Homo sapiens: one gene and its partners. The protein of the gene in region 2 interacts with the protein of the main gene of each other region in a pairwise test. Each region holds a gene or a part of one and is shown on either strand. Other genes may lie near its edges. The genes, in order: AKR1B10, ACACA and FGF14.

Region 1 (7,113 bases), on a different chromosome or scaffold from region 2:
GATGCTGATGTGAATAATCACCATGGCTACCATGTACAGAAGGACACCACTCCAATGAGGGTCTCAAGACTGATCATCAGAGCCTCTCCATCTGGGAGACAGGCAGGAGGACCTGGAAGCTTGGGTCCTTTCCCCGGGCTCTGAAGCCTCAGCATTTTGCAAAGCCTGGTTCACCCTTGGGTGGCTGAACTGGAAATATTCCCAGAGGGTCAAGCATGTCGCCCTTGGTGTTGTTGTTGTTGTTTAATTCCCATTTTTTCCCACTGCCATCCCATTTGTGTGTACCAAACGTGTTACCTTACACACATTTTTCTTTCCAGTAACTTATGGACCCATACCAACATTTACCAATTATAAAATAATGTTTTTAAGATTATCAAGAGAAAGACCCACCACTTGGAAGCCTCACCAAGGTCTATCCGGAGAGCCCAGGGGGCTGTAGGCCGTAACGGTGATGCCCTTGGAGTGGCAGTACTGGATCAGTTTCTCCTGTGTGAGGTATGGGTGACACTCAACCTGCAACAGCAAACAATCCTCATCACGGGGAAAGCCGGCTCTGTTTTGCATTGTTCCTAGGGAGTTCTACACACAAAAAAAGTCCACCAAGCAAAGGCCAAACACCTGCCCACTGAGATACTTGCTAAATCACCCGTGAGATCAGCCTCACACCTCCCCAAAGTGTCCTGATCACTGACCCCTGAGATGAGACTCAGGGCATAGCATTGAACATTCCTCCCGCAATGTTTAAGAAGTAATAGGGCAGGACCCTTACCCTTAAACTGAATAGAATTTACCTGGTTAGTCACTGGTTTATATTTCAGTCCAGGTTTGTTCAAGAGCTTCTCGATCTGGAAGTGGCTGAAATTGGAGACCCCAAGGGCTTTCACCAGCCCCTCATCCACCAGCTCCTCCATGGCCTATCATAGAAAGGAATACCTTATGGGCAGCTCTAGAGGGACTACAGGGACCCTGGCTTGCCTTAGTCCTCCCTGGGGCAGAAATTGCTAAAGGATCCACCGTAACAGGGTTAGCCGAAGCATTCACAGGAAATTTTAGTCCAGGGCCTGGGTGCCCATCAGTGACTGGTTCCAGCCCTACTGCCCCTCCCCAGCGCAAGAAAAACTAGGAGTAACAGGTAAAGATTTTATGTTCTTGCCACTCTCACCTTACACGTGAAGAAACACATAAAAAATTAAACTTCCTGTACACAGGGGAAATATGAAAGTTTTGTAATGCAAAAAAATAAAAAGTAAATAAAAATCAACATTTGTAAGCTTATGAGATGATTTAATTTTTAATGAATCCAAATGATAGCAGGGAGCTGCTGTTGTGTGTGTGCATTGCACACCCAAACCTGGGCAAGCTGTGTTAGTCAGGAAGAGGCTGCAGCATACGGAGAAGCCTCACTTGTGGGTCCTGAGTCCCTCTCTCCCACACTAAGCATGCTTTGGTTTGCAGGAAGGTCATGCATTCAGATTACACCCTGATAGGGGCACCCGGCCATGGAGTTGTGTGGGACTGAAGCCTGACCCACTGTTTGCATATCCAGCCATGCTTCCTGGTACAGAAACTGCATGGACACGCAAGGAAGGGAATCTTTGTATAATTTTTAGCCTATATTGGGCATTTTCCAAACTTGCCCAAAGATACCATACATGTTAGCAGCAGCCTCCAGTGCAATATGTATTTAGTAGCCATCTATTACATGTTCCAGATCCTGCCCAGAAGTTGTCAGGATGTAAATGTATACAATGTGCTCCCTTTTTCTGGGATTCTTATAGTCCAATTAAAGTGCTAGAGTTCCCTTCTATGGAGCCATCAATCATGACACTGAGGCTGCCTCAGATAACATCACAGCGGCATAGACAGAGTCAGAAAGGGCAGAGAAAGAAGAGATACATACAGCCCGCAGTTGTCAGGGGAGTCCTTCAGGTAGAGTATAAGCTGGGCCTCAAAAGAAAAAAAAAAAAAAAAAAAAAAAGACAGAAAAGAGGGAAAAAACATGAGCATATGACACAGGAAGGCAGGAGCAAAGCTCAGAGGCAGGGATAAGCACGACATGTTCAGGGAACACTTTATCCAGCCCTTCTCAACTTTGGCTGCAATTTGGAATCACCAGGGAGCTTTAAAAAATACTGGCTGGATGCAGTGGCTCATGACTGTAATCTCAGCACTTTGGGAGGTGACAGGAGGATTGGAACAGGGGTTTTGGGCCTAGGTTTGAGTAACCTAGGGTAAGTTTTTTAACTCTTGTAGGCCTTAGCTTTCTCTTCTTAAAAAAAGTCTTATAATACCTACTAATAATATATATGTTTCTGATATATATTACCAGAGGCTGAGACAGGAGGATTGCTTGAGGCCAGGTGTTGGAGACCATCCTGGGCAACATAGCAAGACCCTGTCTCTACAAAAAGAAATTTTTTTAATTAGCTGGATGTGGCGGCATGTGCCTTTGATTCCAGCTACTTGGGAGGATTGCTTCAGCCCAGGAGTCCGAGGCTGCACTAAACTATGATGATGCCATTGTACTCCAGCCTGGGCAACAGAGAGAGACTCTCTCTAAATTAAAAAAAAAAATTACCAGTGCCTGGATTTCACCCCCCAGAGTTTCTTACAGATTTTCTCTGAGTTGTAGCCTAGACGTTGGGATTTTTAAACTCCTCAGGTGATTCTAATGCATAGCCACGTTGAGAACCACTAGGATATATGATGTTATCCAAATTGGGCAGTAGAATTTAGAAGCTGTGAAATCATTAGGTTTCCCAAAATTTCAGATGGGGCAATTAGATAATTTAAAAGTTTTTGTGCACATAGGTCAGGTTAGTTTTCCTGTATTAGAACTTGACTTCTTTATACATTTTTCCTCCTCTCTGCTTCAATGTGGTCAGTGAGGTTTCTACTGAACTGGTTGTGGGTCTACATAAACATCCAACGCTTACATATTCAAGCCTGCTCATTTCAAATCAGAGCCTCTGATCTTGATCACTGCTATCTTTTCATGCCTTTCAAATGTTTTATTTAGCAGTCGTTCTTGTATTCATTCAAAAAACAGCACTGCGAGAAGCAGGCTACATTGACATACTTGCCATACTTCATGGCATCATAAGAGTTAAGATAAAAAAATCTTATCATATGTAATGCAAATAGCCAGGTGTGGTGGCTCACACCTGTAATCTGAGCACTTTGGGAGGCCAAGACAGGTGGATCCCTTGAGGTCAGGACTTCGAGACCAGACTGGCCAACATGGTGAAACCCCATCTCTACTAAAAATACAAAAATTAGCCAGGCGTGGTGGCATGCACCTCTAGTCCCAGCGACTCAGGAGGCTGAGGCAGGAGAATGGCTTTTACTTGGTAGAGGGACGTTGCAGTGAGCCAAGATTGTGCCACTGCACTCCAGCCTGGGTGACAGAGTGAGAGTGTCTAAGACAATAAAAACAACAAAAAGCTGTGCTTGTGGATTAATGCTTTTGAACAAACAATACACAGAAAAAGCTACATTTCATTGAATCATGTCAATTATAAGCATTTCAGAAAGTTGAAACATAATATATTTTTGCTTGTAAAACACAATACAAACTCGCAACTACATGCACACCTACACAGACAGCTACCAAAATAACACGATTAACTCTTGGAGTCATAAGCCACTGTTCATTTATAACTTATTCCTCCACTTCATTCTCTACTAGCATTTGCAAAAGGGTATAAATAATAAAAAATGACCAGAGAAAATGTTCATCCCTTCATTCATTTTGAATGTGAATGACGTGAAACAGGTCATGGTTAGATCTGAGAAGCAGAGCACTCAGGCTCCCTGATTTCTGGATGTGTCTTCACTGCCTGCCAAGCACCATGCTGATGGCTTTGGTGGTTGGACTTGTGATTCAGATGAGTCTGGGTCTAATCCCAGCTCTGCCACACACATTGTGACAAGACCTGGGCAAGTCATCAAACAATCTAGGTTTCAAATGTCATTATTTATAAATGGGGATGTTAACCCTGTCTCCTAGGGTTAAATGGGCTTTATGACTAATGTTCCTGGCATGTAAACCATCTTAATCTTTATCACACACTGGAAGATATATATTGGTAGTATGTATTATACAACTTCTTTTTAAGAAGAGAAAACTGAGCCCTACATGAGTTACAAAACTGACCCTAGGTTACTCAGCTGCTATGAGCACACCCAGGCCCAAACCTCCTGTTCCAAATGCCTCGCCCTGGTTTGAGAACAGCATGTGTATTCCCCAAAGTGGGGTACATTGTATTTCCAGTCTTATTTGAAGACTATTAGCCTTGAAATATAAATAGTATCAGATGTACCCAAAAGCCAAAGGTGATGAGGAAGATATTAGAAGAGCTAGAAAATCACAATGATGAAATTAGAAAGCATCAGGCACATGGCCTCATTCATATCCATGCGAATCTCATGGATAACTGAAGATTTCTCTCCCAGCACACTTAGAGGAAGCTGGGAACCTACCTCCCAGGCATCCAAGAACGTTGCTTTTCCACCGATGGCATTACCTTTATCATCTTTGGGGAAAAGGTCATCCCCAGACTGTGAACACAGAATGAAAAGTTTACTGGAATCTGCATCAGGACACTTGGTTCTGTTCAACAAGGTTTCAGGATCCTGACTCTTGCTAAATACCACATCTGCATACCACTTTTTCAAGTTCTGGAGTACATACTTTAGGAATGTGAGTTTAATTAAAATCTCTGTATCTACTGTAGCATACTAATATTTTAGAAACGACTGGCTTGACTTTAAGATTTGCTGCTAGTACATTCCAGAAGTTCATTATCACCATGGACATTAACCTCATACACCTAGATCCCATATACAACCAAGGGCAAACTTTCATTTCAATATTACTGGATAAGGATTAGATATCCAAGCTGTGGTTTTCTGGAGAAGATATTGGCCAACTTCTATCCTTGCAGCCTCTAGAAGAGGCGTGGAATTAGGGGTGGCAGGCCATCATCACTCCAGTTGGTCAGGAGGGGAGAGAGCTGGAAATTTGTCTCTCCCACCCCTCAGGAGCAGGTAAGAGCAGAGCCCCAGGCAATGGGTGCCTGGATCACTACTGGCTTCCTTCCAGCATCACCATACTTGGGCTTTTCTCCAAGATGCCACTCCCAGGTGTACTTTGCTTAATAAGATAATTATGCCCTGGAATATAGTTATGCAAGAGTAACCCAAGAGATTTCCTGGGAGGGCAACCCTGGGGCGTGGAATCAAGACAAAGGTGATATGGCAGTTGCAACTTGTCTGGGCTGCCAGAAATCATGTCTTCTCTCAGACATAACTGCAAGAAAACCCAGGCATGTGGCCACCTCAGCAGCACACATGGCCTCAACCTCCCTTCCAGGCCAGTGTGTTTCTTCTCCAAGGTCTCTTCCTGACCACCTGCCATTCCCAATTATGAAATGCAAGGCCTCCTGCCCCAGTCCACACCACCCCACAGCCCTGGTGCAGCTACTATTTTCTGGCACCTGCTCAGAAACTAGAGGCTGAGAAAGAGAGTGTCTTAAACCTTGAATCCCTGTGGCCAGTGAATAAGATAGACGTCCAGATAGCTCAGCTTCAGGTCCTTGAGGGTCTTCTCAAAGGCTTTCCTCACAAGGGGTCTCTCAAAGAAAGTGGGCCACAACTGCAAAGAGTGTAGCAATGAGCTATTAATACTGGGAAAAGGAAGGGCCACATTGTACTCATTGTCCCTGCTTTTTGATTTGCATCCTCATCTAACCCACCACAAGCCATTTGTAACAAAGCTGATTAAGATCCACGACACAGTGTGGAACATCACCAGGGCTCAGCACCTCAATGACATGTCTTAAGTGTTAAAAGCAATTGACTTTTTCAACTGTCCTAGTACTCTATACGTGTCTCAGATCATTGAAGTAAATGTGGCCACAGATTTGAAATTTGTTTACCTGTCTCAGTCTCTTCCTCAGCTGTAGGCTCTCTGAGAGCAGGAATTGTGTGTAGCTTTTAAATGTCAAGCATTCTTAGGCCTTTGGGAGCAGATGGTCCTTTATCTGACCTATCTGATAGGTCCCTTATCAAGCCTATAAGGCCCCAAGTGATAATTTTACAAAGGCTTTATCCAGACTTGGCTGCTACACAGTGAGGTCTATTTGTCCTACCAGATGTATGCATTTTCCAAGTACCTAGAACTAGTGTTATTTTTTTTCAGCAAGTTATGTATAATATAGATCCAGTGATTCTCAGCCCTCTCACACCCAACATCTTCTTCTTTTTTATAACATTGTATCCCTCACCTTTTACTAGAATGAATAAAGAAATTCATATGTGACAATAGAAAAATGCCCCTACCATTTTCTAAAATTCCCCCTGGCTGAGAGTCTCAGGGGCACAGTCACTGAGATCACAGTGCTGAAAGGGAGGCTTCAGATCAAGACCCGCCTGCACCCTTGGCCTCTGATTGCCTCTGGGCAGATGGTAGATCCCTCTGATGGGGAACAGGGAGGCCCAGGGCAGTGCAGGGTTCCATGGAACCAAGCCCACTATGGGAAAACCAACCTACAGGCAGGTGGGGCAGCCACGACATGTTCAAATATCAATAATGGCTTGGAGTATGGATAGTGTTGTATTCACGGATGTTATCAAGGCAGAGATGAAAAGGGGTACATGTAGAAAAGGCTGACAGAGTTCTTGCTGCCAACCCGACCCAGATACTTCTGCCTGCCTTGAAGTGAAGGCCTCCCACCAAATGCACCATTGCACCTTGCTGACGATGAACAGGTCCTCCCGCTTCACAGCCTTCTCTTGGATCTTCTCTTGGATGGCTTCCCCCACTTCATGTTCATTCTGATAGACATAGGCACAGTCAATGTGCCGATATCCTGCATCAATGGCCACCTTCACTGCTTCTTTCACTTTGCCAAGAGGAGACTGAAAGGCAAAAGAAAAGCTCATCACATATGTGTTTTTTTTAAGAGATGGGGCCCTGCCGTGTTGCCCAGGCTGGCCTCACACTCCCAGGTTCAAGCAACCCTCCCACCTCCCGAGTAGCTGGAATTACACCACTCTCAGCAACCATCATATTCTCTTATCCCCAGGCCACCTTCAACAGGCTGCCCC
Region 2 (7,113 bases):
GGTCAGGAGATCGAGACCATCCTGGCCAACATGGTGAAACCCGTGACTACTAAAAATGCAAAAATTAGCTGGCATGGCAGCGTGTGAATGTAATCCCAGCTACTCAGGAGGCTGAGGCAGGAGAATTGCTTGAACTCGGGAGGCAGGGGTTGCAGTGAGCCGAGATCAGCCACTGCACTCCAGCCTGGTGACAGAGCTAGACTCCATCTCTAAATCAATGAGTGAATGAATGAATCAATCAATCAACTAATATCACTCTATTTTCAATTCATGAAAATACCTCTAATTAGGGAATAGCCCCAGGAACAAAGCTATAAGGTATACATGATCCAAGTGTGCTTTTCTCATAACTACAGATACTTATCCTTCACATACAGTACTTTCACTGTTGGGTTTGTACCCTGAGGCAGTTTTGTGAGGAATACAATGCTTAAAAGTATACAAGCACAACATCCAAAAAGTAAGGAGGATCCAAATAGGAAGGAATCCTACAACATAAACTCTGGCATTGGTAGCCAGAAAAAAATATAGTGTTATCCTATAAATACCTGCTGGCTGGGAAACTGACAGAGGACTGATGTGATGTTGCTAGCATACTGAGCCATTTCCTTCTTGATAGACTTCTCCACATTGGGGGGAATGCGGCCAGACACACTGGTCATAATATCTTGCAATTCTAGGAGAGGCAGGGAGGGATCTCTGAGGGTTTTCATCAATCGCTCTACCCAGTCTTTTACCTAGAAAGAAAGCATTGGTAAAATAGGACCCAAGTTAACACAATCCCCCAAATAAAAAGATATATAGTTGTCATTCTGTATACGTGGGAAATTGGTTCCAGAACCACCACTCATATATGAAAATCTGCACATACTTGAGCCCTACGGAACCCATGTATAGAAATAGTTGTGGGTTCCATATCTCATCAATACTGTAATTTTGATCCATGTTTGGCTGAAAAAATCCACATATAAGTGGACCCACACAGTTCAAACCTGTATTGTTCAAGAGTCAACTATATCTGAATTCACTATCATATACTACTTCTTTTCAATAAAAATTTATATAATTTTCAATAGATATGGGGTCTTGCTATGTTGATCAGGCTGGTCTCAAACTCCTGGCCTCAAGCGATCTTTCCATCTCAGCTTCCCAAAGTGGTGAGATTACAGGCGTGAGCCAACTATCATAGAGTACTTTGAAATTGCAACGTAAGCATCTAACATTGCCCCTATTCTCCAGTTTAAAAAGGACTAATCACGGGCGGGCACAGTGGCTCACGCCTATAATCCCAGCACTTTGGGAGGCCGAGGCGGGCAGATCACAAAGTCAGGAGTTCAAGACCAGTCTGGCCAACGTGGTGAAACCCCACCTCTACTAAAAAAAAAAAAAAAAAATTAGCCGCGCCTGGTGGCACGTGCCTACAATCCCCACTACTCAGGAGGTTGAGGCAGGAGAATCACTTGAACCCAGGAGGTGGAGGTTGCAGTCAGCTGAGTTTGTGCCATTGCACTCCAGCCTGGGCAACAGAGCAAGACTCCGTCTCGAGGAAAAAAAAAAAGGAGTAATCACAATTAAATGTGAAGTCCATGACAAGGATAAGAAACATGGATTTAAAGACCTCAAGTCCCACAACTGAAGGTGAAAGAGTTCTAGGCCAAACAGCTTTCTTTTCCTCCCTCTTAAACAATCATTATGAGACTTGGAACTATTTTGGAGAATAGGTATCCCATTTGTACATCCCTTCCCCAGGAGACGTGATACATACCTTGCTGCTAAAGAAAGGATCTGGAAGGCAGTATCCATTCATTACATTGACCAGATTATCCAGGACATAATGGAACACTCGATGGAGTTTCTCGCCTCTGAGTGCCGTGCTCTGGATCCGTGGCAGACTACCTGTGTGAAGTTCAGCCTGTCAACCCCAACAAGAGATCAAGTCATCTACTACTTTTGATCTAAGGTACAAACACACCACTGCACTTAAGAGTTATCATTCAAAATCGAGACATCATACCCAGCTACCAGGAGGGAAGTCAATAGAGGAAACATCATAAGGAAATTACAGAATCTTAGTACTACAGTAACTCTTGCAAACTCTAGTTCCATAATACTACAGGCACAAATACAAGGCATAAGATTAATAGGGGACAAAGCTAAAGAAAACACTGGCAAACCAAGCATTGAAATCACTTGCCTCTCCAAACCACCAAGTTCTTTAGCTCTTAGAGAGCAATATTCGGAGCACCTTCCTACTCACCTGCTGAACCTTGCTGGGGTTGTCCAGTTGCATTTTGGCTAGTACACAGCCAGGGTCAAGAGCTGCTCCAGGTCGCTTGACGTAATGGATACAGCCAGACTCCACAGCTGTTAAGGTCATTACCATCTTCATTACCTATAGTGAAAAATAAACTAGACTCAGATTTATCTCTCTTTACACAGATGAGTGCTTAAAAGAACTAAAATTTTTCCCTTAGCATCTAAGTTGGACCACACCTAATTTGACCAAGAAAAAATGGGAATTTACCATCATCTCCTAGGGACTATCAAGGCAAGCAATTAGAAAATCTCTCAGTACCTCACTTTAGGAATTAATAACAGTTATTGACATTTCTCCTTTCTAACTTTTACAACCATTTTGGCATAATTTGTGATTATATTTGTTTTGTACTTAGAAAGTAAGGAACAATTTAATATCCTCATACCAGTGAATCCAATCTAAGACAACCAGGCCAAAACCTAAGGATCATTCTTCACTCCTCTTTCTCCCTTACCTACCAATTACCAACCCAGCCAGACATATCTTCTAAACCTTTCTCAAAAATCTTCCTCTCTTGCCAACTCTTCGGTTTACGCCTTCTTCATTTCTGGCCCAAAGTACTTCAAAGACCCCCTAAGAGATCTCCCTACTTGCTACATACCTCCCTCAAGGTCACGAAAAGCAATCTTCCTAGACCCCAAATCTCATCATACTACTTTTCCACTTAAATCTTTCAGAGATTACCTGCTGCCTCCAGGATAGTGAAAACTTACTAGTATGGTTTATAAGATCCTTCATAACCTCACATTCAAGATCTCACATTACTTCTTTAGCACCTTTGCTTGTCCCTCCCCATTAAACCTTAGTCTATTCTCAAGCCACACCAACACATACTTGCAGTTCCCTAAATACACTGTGCTGTCTTGCTTCTGTCTTTGTACATGCTATTCCTTCAACTTTAAGCACTCTTCCCTGCCCTTCTTCACCTGCTCTATCACTATCTGTCTTTCAAAACTAAGATCAAATGTCTCTTCTTTCAGAATATCTTCCCATACAAGCTTAGCTTGATTTGGGTTAGGTGACCCTCTGCACTCTATGCTTAGCTCTCTTAAAATTAATCACATGACATTTCTTGTCTGTTTTGTGCCCCACCTCCATGTATTTTCTCTGGATAGCCAGCAGTTAGGACACCTAACATTCAACAAGTGCTATTGCCTAGTATCTATTTTTAGAACTAGAGATTCCTCATTTGCCTATGTGTTTTAAAAATCTTAAGGTTCGCACTTCTAATTAAGCCAACTGATGTTTCTTTTTCATTCTTATTTCCAATCTGTTACCTTTTTTTTTAATTTTTTAGAAATAGGGTCTTGATTTGTGACGCAGGCCACAAATTGTACCACTCCAGTACAGTGGTACAATCTCCATTCACTGCTGCCTTGAATTCCTGGGCTCAAGGGATCCTCCCGCCTTAGACACCAGAGTGGCTGGGTCTACAGGCATGTGCCACTGTACGCCGCTAATTTTTTAATTTTTCATAGAGATGGGGTCTCACCATCTTGCCCAGGCTAGTCTCGAACTCCTGGGCTCAAGCGATCTTCCTGCCTCAGCCTCCCAAAGTGGTAGGATTACAGGCACAAGCCACTGTGCCCAGCCTCCTTTCTGTAACTTTTCAGTCCTAGTCCATCCCAGCCGACCCTTTTCCTACCTTCCCCTCCCATGATCCCACAGTCCTTTCACCACCCTGACCTCAATCTCAGCATAGCACTGGCCGGCAAACACATGACCTCCATCTTCTACAATGTACTGGATTAACTTCCCAGCAGAAGGTGAGCGCATCACCGATGGGTCATTTTCCTTCTCAAACACACAGGTTTTATTGCCAATTGTGATGCGATATCTAGGAGACAAGTGGAAGTATGTAAGCTAAGAAAGCACCTCAGGATGTAAAGGAGAATGGTAGAGAATGTCAACCTTCAAAGAAAAAAAATCCTGAAAACTTTATTATACACACACACAGACATATTCACTGCATATTTGTTTACAATGTCAATTAACATAAATTTCCTTCAATAAGGATCAGATTAAATATAGTATAATCATATAATGGAATACCACATGACTATTAAAAATAACAGGTACCACCATTTAAAAAAACACACACAAAGATATTGATGACGTAATAGCTAACATTTCTTGAAGCCTAGCTATGTTGTGGCAATGTTCTACACATTTTCAACATGTTAATTTATTTCATTCTCATAACACCATAACTGGTGTTGAACATTTGTGAATTTCTTTTTTTTTTGATACGGAGTTTTGCTCTTGTTGCCCAGACTGGAGTGCAATGGCGTGATCTCGGCTCACCGCAACCTCCACCTCCCAGGTTCACGTGATTCTCCTGCCTCTGCCTCCCAAGTAGCTGGGACTACAGGCATAAGCCACCACATCTGGTTAATTTTGTATTTTTAGTAGAGACAGGGTTTCACCACATTGGCCACACCGGTCTTGAACTCCCAGCCTCAGGTGATCCACCTGCCTCGGCCTCCCAAAGTGCTGGGATTACAGGCGTGAGCCACCGCGCCCAGCCACATTTGTGAATGTATTTAAAGAAAAACAGTATGTACATGAGTGTAACTTGTATATGCATATAAAATTTCTACTCAAATATGTAAGAAACTTTTAACAATGGTTACTTATAAAAAGGGGAACTTATTTTTCATTGTCCACATACACTGGAGTGGTAGGGAGACATGTTTTTAATTATAAACACTTTAATACTCTTGATATTTTTGTTAAGTGCATGTACTATTTTTTTTTTTTTTAACTACAAATGAGTACCAAGAAAAGCCTGGGAAAATCCCAAGAGCTAGTAGCTAATAAGAGAAAAGGCTAACAGGATGACCAGCAAATGGACCTCAAACAGCCACTTACCTATCCACTTCCTCTTTCATATACGTAGTATAACTGCTGCCATCATAGGACAAGAGCAGTCCACCGTCACTCAGCCGATGTACATCTACTTCTACACATGAGCCATTCATGATCACCACATAGGAGTTGGGGGACTGTCGAGTCACCTGTAGGGAATGAGAATGAGGATCAGTGTGTCCCTTCCAGGTACAGCTCCAAATGAAATTTGAATGCTTCAAAAATACAGATAAGAAAGATCTGTCAGGAGGAAGAAAATTCATGGCACTGATGCTATTTGCATCAGTGTCTGTGGACATGGCTCAGTCCTGCTGTAAGCAAAGAGGGCAACCTTAGTTGATTTTCCCCAACTGTGGTTGTTCTCTGTCTCTCCTTTATCTCTTGGCAGTGTATGTGAAGTTGAAGAACAACAAAAAAGATTTTCATAGAACAACAAACGCTGCTTCAGGACACTGACAAAAATAATGACGGTAATTTCACTAATACCCCCATCCCTGCATTAAATCAAACTTTTTCTCCTGCCTCTCAACCTAAAGAAAGATAGCTAAAAAAGTAAGGTGCAAGCTCCAATGGGGTTCTGCATACCTTAAGTACATACTTGACTCCCTCATAGATAAGTTCAACATCTACTGTATTCAGAAGTGTATGAGCAGGAAGGACTTGACCCCTGAAAGAACGATGAGAGAGGAACTTACTACAAAGTTCTAACAGTTATAAGAGAATCTAAAACATTATTGATTGTAGCATTTCCTAGAATAACAAAAGACTAGAAACAACCTAAATACCTAAATGATCGTTTGTAAGGAATTGATCACATCAATTATGAATCTTACAATGGATTTTTTTAAATTAGGGTAAAATACACATTACATTAAATTTGCCATCTTAACCATTACAAAATGCACAGTTCTATAGTGTTGGGGATATTAACACTATTCTGCAACCAATCTGCAGGACTTTTTCAACTGGCAAAAGTGAAACTCTACACCCATTAACAACTCCCAATTTCGCCCTCCCCCCAGTTCCTGGTAACCGTCATTCTACTTTCTAGTTCTATGAGTCTGACTACTCTTCATACTTCATATAAGTAAAACCATATAGTATTTGTCTTTTTGTGACAGGCTTAATTCACTTGCCCTAATGTCCTTAAGATCCACCTATGTTTTAGCATGTGTCAGAATTTCCTTCTTCTTTAAGGCTGAATAATACTGTATTGTATGTATATGCCACATTTTGTTTATCCAGTCATCCATCAACCAACATCTGAGTTGCTCCCATCTTTTAGCTACTGTGAATAATCCTCCTATGAATGTGGCTGTGCAAGTATCTTTCAGACCCTGCTTTCAATTCTTTCAGAATACCCAGAAGTGGTATTACCAGATCATAGGGTAATTCTATTTTTAATTTTTTCAGTAATTGCAATACCATTTTTCAATAGTGGCTGCATCATTTTACATTCCCATCAAGAGTGCACAAGTGTCCCAATTTCTCTACGTACTTGCCAATACTTGCTATTTTCTGTTTTTTGACAGTGGGCATCCTAATGGGTGTGAGGTGGTATCTCATCATGGTTTTGATTTTATTTACTTAATGATTAGTGATGTTGCGCATGTTTTCACATGTGGAACAAAACATACAGACATTAAAAAGATGTGAACTAAAAAACACTTTAAAAAATATACTGTTGAGTTAAAAAAGCAAGGTAAATAACAGCTTCACAGCATGCTACCATTTGAGTTTTAAAAAACCAGGAGGTGGGAAGAAACAAATATTGCATGTTGATATGGTTCGGCTGTGTTCCCACTCAAATCTCATCTTGAACTGTAGCTCCCATAATTCTCTTGTGGTGTGGGACGGACCCAGTGGGAGATACTTGAATCATGGGGGCGGTTCCCCCATACTGTTCTCATGGTAGTGAATAAGTCTCA
Region 3 (7,113 bases), on a different chromosome or scaffold from region 2:
TACATACAGCAGTGAATAGAAGAGTTGAAGTTCCTGCCATCATGGAGCTCACAAACATGGGGTAGAGAGTCATTGCCTATGGAAAGGAACAAATTAATAAGAAATAATAAAATTCAAAGTCCTATAAAGCATGAAGAGAGCTGGGATAAAGAATTATGGAGGAGAGAGGGGTGGGGAGAGGGATCTAATTAGATAAAGTAGTCAGGGTGGGCAACACTGGGATCCACAGGTTGAGAGATGACAGGTAAGAAGGATGCAGAGATTTTAAGAGCAGGTAGAAAAAGCAATGTGTGTGCAGAGACCTTGAGGTGGAAAAAATATTGTCCCATTGGGAGAAAAAAAAGAGGCATAGAAATTTTAAGCACATTGTCAAGTAGAATATAGTGTGATATGCTTGAAAACAGAATAAAGAATAGCTCCACATTTTGTGTTTTGGGGAAGGGTAATACACATTTTTGAAATGTAGGGTTTTAAAAAATCCTTTATTAAGTAGTAATTTATTTAATGTAAAGATTATTGAGTTGGAGCCCTACACCCACACTCTTTCCTATCTCCATCACCCCTACCCCTATAGAAGAGTGATGTTTATACCAGTTGACTTACTCTTGTGAAGGACAGAAATTTGCAAGATGGCTATTAATGGTGTGGTAGGCAGCATGACTGCAACCCACCTTTCCAGATTCAGCTCCATCTACCCTCCACCGACCTCCACAGATTTCAAACACAATACAATGCCACACACCCCGCAAATTAGTCATATGCTTTCAAATCCTTATCCTTTTGTTTGTGCTTTACTGTGTGTCTAGCATCTTCTCCTCACTTCTACATTCACCTGTTGAAATTATGAAATTATTCTCATTTTGAAAAGCTGAGAGAAAATGCCATCTCCTCTGAGAAGCCTTCATTTATTGGATACAATTAAAAATAATTCTCCTGTGGTATTTCATACGTCACTGTTGTTGTTTATATATACCTGATAATAATTAATTAAGTATACATATTCAGCTGATTGTAGGGAAGAAGCAAAGTCTGTGTTTTCTGCATCTTCATAGGCTCTCAAATCTTGAGAGTGTTTGCCATACACTGGGTTCTCCTCATTGCCCTTGGATTGGAGTGAAATAAGGAAGGTTAATAGGCCCAAGCTAAAAAAGAAAGTATCCTTGAACCAGAGTGATCTAACTAGATAATTTTAGACATAAAAATACTTTTCAAATTTTATACCTTTTTTACTTTCCCTAAATAAATATAATTATATCTTTTTTTAAGAGAATTAGAGGGATTACATATTTGTGGGTTATTTATAAGAATGCAAGAACATAAACAACCTCATTTTAAAGCTTAACTAATATATGAACAAAGATATTTACATATATTGATTTAGCCAAAGAAAGGGGAATTTACAAGGAAATCAACAGTTTGCAAATAGTTTTATTATTTGGAATCTTAACAAAAATGAAAACTAAAGTAGCCACTGACTACAATGGTGTATAATGAACATTGTATCCCCAAAAGTGTTATGTTTTTATTATGAATTTTTCAATCAAACAAGAACCATAATTGTTCACAGGATAATAACCTTTCTAAATCTTTGGCATGGCTGCTAATGCAGTTGTTTCTTGAGATTTACTTTTTTGGGGCTGTGATCATGAGAGCTATGGTATTATGTGCCATGTATGCTTAATCAGCAGGTGCCTGGGCTTCTTACTAACATTTTAACTAAAATAAATTACAGTATGTATAAGGAATGGAAAGTGAGGTACTTAAAATGTGTTTTCAAGTTAATGCATAATATAAAAAGCAGAAATGCATGTACACCTATAGAAATAAACTGCTTTGCTCCAGTGTGATAGTGAAATCCATCAGTTATTCTAAGAAAAGTGTCCTTCCTTCTTACAAGGTGCTATGTAAGGAAACAAGTGTCTACCGTCTCAGAAAATAATCCACAGCAAATAGTCATCAAAAAAAAAAAAAAACACTGTTTTTGTGCGCTACTGTTTTAGTGTCATTACCATGTGCTCATACAAAGACCACATGCTTGTTTGTTTTGGCTGTTTTGGCTAAACTAAAACAAGGGAACATTTTTCTTCAAAGCACTTTTTATTTTTTGGAAGATATTTTCTCTTTGGTGTTGGTTTTCTAAGGCCATACCCATTGGAGTCTTACTACATATTAATACCTGTTGCTAACTTTTTGATAATTATAATTTTATTATTTGTTAGTTGTATTAAGGTTAGATCAAATTATGGTCTTCTAAATTAAAATGTTGAGTTTTGTTTTGTTTTGTTTTTAACAAGGGACATACTATAAATGCAATTTCTAAGCAGGGAATCTTATGAGAATATTACCAGATTGGTCAATGAAATAATGTTAGAGACAAAAAAGGCATTCATTGTTTATGCATTTTCCTCCTGTGGCTTAATTGTTATGATTTCACAGTCCATATTTGCTATAGGTTTCTGAAAATGTTTAATACCTCAGTAGTTCAATAAGTAAAGTGTAAAATAGTGTAACAGATTAGGTATAATGTAATTAAACATAAAGAAGATGGTTTGCTTTGGGTTTAGTTATATCCATAGATTGAGTTGAGTTTACATATATTAATAATCTATGGCCAACTGTCTGGTGAAGAAATCCTGTGACCTTTCCTAACAAGATTTCAGATACACAAAACCTTCTGTCCCAAAGTTACCGTAATCAATTACGGGCTTCACTTCACATTTTGAATTTGAATACTTTTACATTTAGCCCCAAACTTGTGATTTTTGTTAGTAATTCCATTCTCTATGATGTTACTGTGAGAACAAGTATTTTCAAACCCAACAAGAACCTCCCTTCTCTTTGGTGTAAAGTTACGTCTTCTAAATTTTATTTATTTAAATTTTTTTAAATGGTAGAAATTTAAAAGGAAAGGTTTCTAAATATGATTTATCCACTTAGTTATGGAATTCTATATTTTTCTTAGATATAATTTATATTAATGTCTCCCCAAATGTTGAGAAACTTTAGCCAAAGAGGACTATGATATTTAGATAATACAAATGTTATATAATATTTCAAATATTGTTTTAGCACCCAACAACTAAAACACACACACACACACACACACACACACACACACACACACACACACACACACACACGAATCCAAATCTCTAAGAGACCATTTCAGAGACGTCAATGCAATTTAAAGCCAGTTACAGTGTTTGCATTAGAAAACAACTAATTTCATAGTTTTGGTCTATAATGGTCCAGCATTCAATTTAAGAAACTCAGATCACATGAAAATGTCACCATTTGCTGTTTACTGGGGTGACAGTATACCAGTAGGCATGCGTAGAAATGCAGACACAGTGTCTACACCATTTTATGATAGGTACTACTTTGTCATTCAGAAAAATGTCTCCTTTCATAAAATTAAATTTTGTAATTTATTTTGTGGAATGTATGTTTCTCCCTATGATTTTATGGTTTTTGATATTGGGATTGATAGGAACCCATACGGCATCACCATAGGGAAGGGCCACTTCAAAGTCATTGTCTCACCAGTGCCTGGCATACAGCTAACACTTCAGAAGTATTTGTTGAGTGAATGAAACATACCACATTTGTCAGGACATATATGCAGCAGAAGCATAGAATACAATTGAGATAAATGAACGCATAGCAATGGCTATAATTGGATAATTATTATTATTATTATTTTGGTCTGATTTACTTTTTATTTTATTTATTTTTTTATACTTTATGTTTTAGGGTACATGTGCACAAAGCGCAGGTTTGTTACATATGTATACATGTGCCGTGTTGGTGTGCTGCACCCAGTAACTCGTCATTTAACATTAGGTATATCTCCTAATGCTATCCCTCCCCCCTACCCCCACCCCACAACAGGCCCTCGTGTGTGATGTTCCCCTTCCTGTGTCCATGTGTTCTCCTTGTTCAATTCCCACCTATGAGTGAGAACGTGCGGTGTTTGGTTTTTTTGTCCTGGTGATAGTTTGCTGAGAATGATGGTTTCCAGCTTCATCCATGTCCCTACAAAGGACATTAACTCATCATTTTTTATGGCTGCATTGTATTCCATGGTGTATATGTGCCACATTTTCTTAACCCAGTCTATCATTGTTGGACATTTGGGTTGGTTCCAAGTCTTTGCTATTGTGAATAGTGCCGCAAGAAACATATGTGTGCGTGTGTCTTTACAGAAGCATGATTTATAGTCCTTTGGGTATATACCCAGTAATGGGATGGCTGGGTCAAATGGTATTTCTAGTTCTAGATCCCTGAGGAATCGCCACACTGACTTCCACAATGGTTGAACTAGTTTACAGTCCCACCAACAGTGTAAAAGTGTTCCTATTTCTCCACATCCTCTCTATCACCTGTTGTTTCCTGACTTTTTAATGATCGCCTTTCTAACTGGTGTGAGATGGTATCTCATTGTGGTTTTGATTTGCATTTCTCTGATGGCCAGTGATGATGAGCATTTTTTCACGTGTCTTTTGGCTGCATAAATGTCTTCTTTTGAGAAGTGTCTGTTCATATCCTTCACCCACTTTATGATGGGGTTGTTTGTTTTTTTCTTGCAAATTTGTCTGAGTTCATTGTAGATTCTGGATATTAGCCCTTTGTCAGATGAGTAGATTGCAAAAATTTTCTCCCATTCTGTAGGTTGCCTGTTCACTCTGATGGTGGTTTCTTTTGCTGTGCAGAAGCTCTTTAGTTTAATTAGATCCCATTTGTCAATTTTGGCTTTTGTTGCCATTGCTTTTGGTGTTTTAGACATGAAGTCCTCGCACATGCCTATGTCCTGAATGGTATTGCCTAGGTTTACTTCTAGGGTTTTTATGGTTTTAGGTCTAAAGTTTAAGTCTTTAATCCATCTTGAATTAATTTTTGTGTAAGGTGTAAGGAAGGGATCCAGTTTCAGCTTTCTACTTATGGCTAGCCAGTTTTCCCAGCACCCTTTATTAAACAGGGAATCCTTTCCCCATTTCTTGTTTTTGTCAGGTTTGTCAAAGATCAGATAGTTGTGGATATGTGGCATTATTTCTGAGGGCTCTGTTCTGTTCCATTCATCTATATCTCTGTTTTGGTACCAGTACCATGCTGTTTTGGTTACTGTAGCCTTGTAGTATAGTTTGAAGTCAGGTAGCATGATGCCTCCAGCTTTGTTCTTTTGTTTTAGGATTGACTTAGCAATGCGGGCTCTTTTTTGGTTCCACATGAACTTTAAAGTAGTTTTTTCCAATTCTGTGAAGAAAGTCATTGGTAGCTTGATGGGGATGGCATTGAATCTATAAATGACCTTGGGCAGTATGGCCATTTTCATGATATTGATTCTTCCTACCCATGAGCATGGAATGTTCTTCCATTTGTTTGTATCCTCTTTTATTTCATTGAGCAGTGGTTTGTAGTTCTCTTTGAAGAGGTCCAATAATTGGATAATTATTAATGTATTTAACAACTACCTGCATGACACTCTGTGTCTATTGAGTACTATTTAATCTTCACAACAAACCCATGTGGTAGGTACACTACATTATCCATTCATTAATACACTAAATTATCCAGTAATCGATAATACACTAATATTATCCATTCATTCATTTTACAGATGAGGAATCGGAAACAAAAATAAAAAGCTTGCATAGCTTTGAAGAGTGGGGCTGGGATTAGGAGAAGATCTGCTAACTGTTTAGCCCATCTGCCTGCCTACTATTTGCCTGCACTTACAAGGCTGAATTTGGCTGAAGAAAAATACGCAGACACATTGGTCCTACTTTAAATTCACAGTCAATAACCTCAGGGGGCCCCTTGGTACATTTCTTTTTTAAAATCCATTTTCACTTAACTGGATCATATTTCTTACCTTACTTCCCTTCAAACCTCTTATGTCTCCTCTCCCATTTCTACTCTCAGCTATATCCTTACTTCTATTTGTCTGAGAAAGTAGAAATAATAAGAAATAAATGTTCACATACTCCACAACTGCTTTTATAAGTCTATCTGCAGATCTATCCATTTACTCCTCTTTTTATTTTTTTACTGAACTTGGGGATAAACTCCTAGTGCTGTAATCTAAGTTCAAGACCTCATCAAATTTAGCATTAGACCATCTCTCCTACTCAGGGAAATCAATCCAATAATTTTCTTCTCTTCTGCATCATCCTACTGTGTTATCCCACATCCTCCTGTATTATCCTTAACAGTATTTAAATATGCTCTAATATTTAGAACATCTTAAATAATTACCCCATGTTAAAAAAGAATCCCCTCTTGGTTATGCATTTCTCTCTAGCTATTGAATTAATTGTCTGTTACTGGCAAAACTCTTTGAAAGAGAAATTGCAACTATCCTTCTCCCATTCTCTCTTGGACCCTTTCTAAACAGGTGTTTGTCCCCAGTAACAAACTGTTCTTGTCACGGTCACCCATGACCTGCAAGTGATCAAACTCAAGATTCTGTTTTCAGTTCTTATCCTACCCGTATAGTATTTGGCATTCAAATTTTCATAATAAATTTGTATTTTTTACTACAAAGTGGTAAAGTTAGCATCGAAATACTTTAAACCTACCATTTACCCAACCAGTACCCTTTATGCGATCATCTTTTTATAGTGACGATATATTTGGGTTTCTAATTGAGAGTATTAATACGTTAACTATTCCATGTGATTTGATGTTCAGCCAAACACTAATAGTACTCAGTTGGTATTCGGGTACCATTAGAAGGCAATGCTTGGTGTTTCCTTACTTGGGAAGAATATTCCTTTCATCACATGTATTTGTGTTTGGACAGAGTGGCTTGTCTCTATAAAACAGAAGAAGATGAATGGTCTTTCTGAGAATTAGTCTTTGTATTTAAATATAATAGATTTGTGATTAAGCAACGGCTGCTTTTCAGACTCCTTAATTACTATCATAGCAAATAATCATTGGCAAACTAAAATATTAGTTTGCTTAATGATAAATATCACTCAAGTTTAAGCATTATGTAGAAAGAAATAGTCATAAACTTTGGAAGGGCCGTTTATCATAGTTCATTTTCTCTATGTGGAACGTTTTCATGGATAGATTTGTTCCTTATTTTTACACCTAAGGGTTTCAAGT

Evidence for each region.
Region 1: the proteins of ACACA (region 2) and AKR1B10 interact in binary tests that used the Homo sapiens proteins (3 or more experiments, as listed by UniProt).
Region 3: the proteins of ACACA (region 2) and FGF14 interact in binary tests that used the Homo sapiens proteins (3 or more experiments, as listed by UniProt).

What each region holds. Positions count from the first base shown.
Region 1 is NC_000007.14:134,530,454-134,537,566, reverse strand, and holds part of AKR1B10 (aldo-keto reductase family 1 member B10), read right to left. Parts: intron 6,925-7,113; coding exon 6,757-6,924; intron 5,660-6,756; coding exon 5,543-5,659; intron 4,564-5,542; coding exon 4,486-4,563; intron 1,951-4,485; coding exon of another isoform or gene 1,852-1,950; exon of another isoform or gene 928-1,851; intron 918-927; coding exon 795-917; intron 517-794; coding exon 410-516; intron 1-409. UniProt on the Homo sapiens protein: Catalyzes the NADPH-dependent reduction of a wide variety of carbonyl-containing compounds to their corresponding alcohols. Displays strong enzymatic activity toward all-trans-retinal, 9-cis-retinal, and 13-cis-retinal.
Region 2 is NC_000017.11:37,242,823-37,249,935, forward strand, and holds part of ACACA (acetyl-CoA carboxylase 1), read right to left. Parts: intron 5,853-7,113; coding exon 5,771-5,852; intron 5,335-5,770; coding exon 5,189-5,334; intron 4,155-5,188; coding exon 4,004-4,154; intron 2,393-4,003; coding exon 2,258-2,392; intron 2,154-2,257; exon of another isoform or gene 1,979-2,153; intron 1,913-1,978; coding exon 1,766-1,912; intron 738-1,765; coding exon 549-737; intron 1-548. UniProt on the Homo sapiens protein: Cytosolic enzyme that catalyzes the carboxylation of acetyl-CoA to malonyl-CoA, the first and rate-limiting step of de novo fatty acid biosynthesis.
Region 3 is NC_000013.11:101,906,865-101,913,977, reverse strand, and holds part of FGF14 (fibroblast growth factor 14), read left to right. Parts: intron 1-7,113. UniProt on the Homo sapiens protein: Probably involved in nervous system development and function.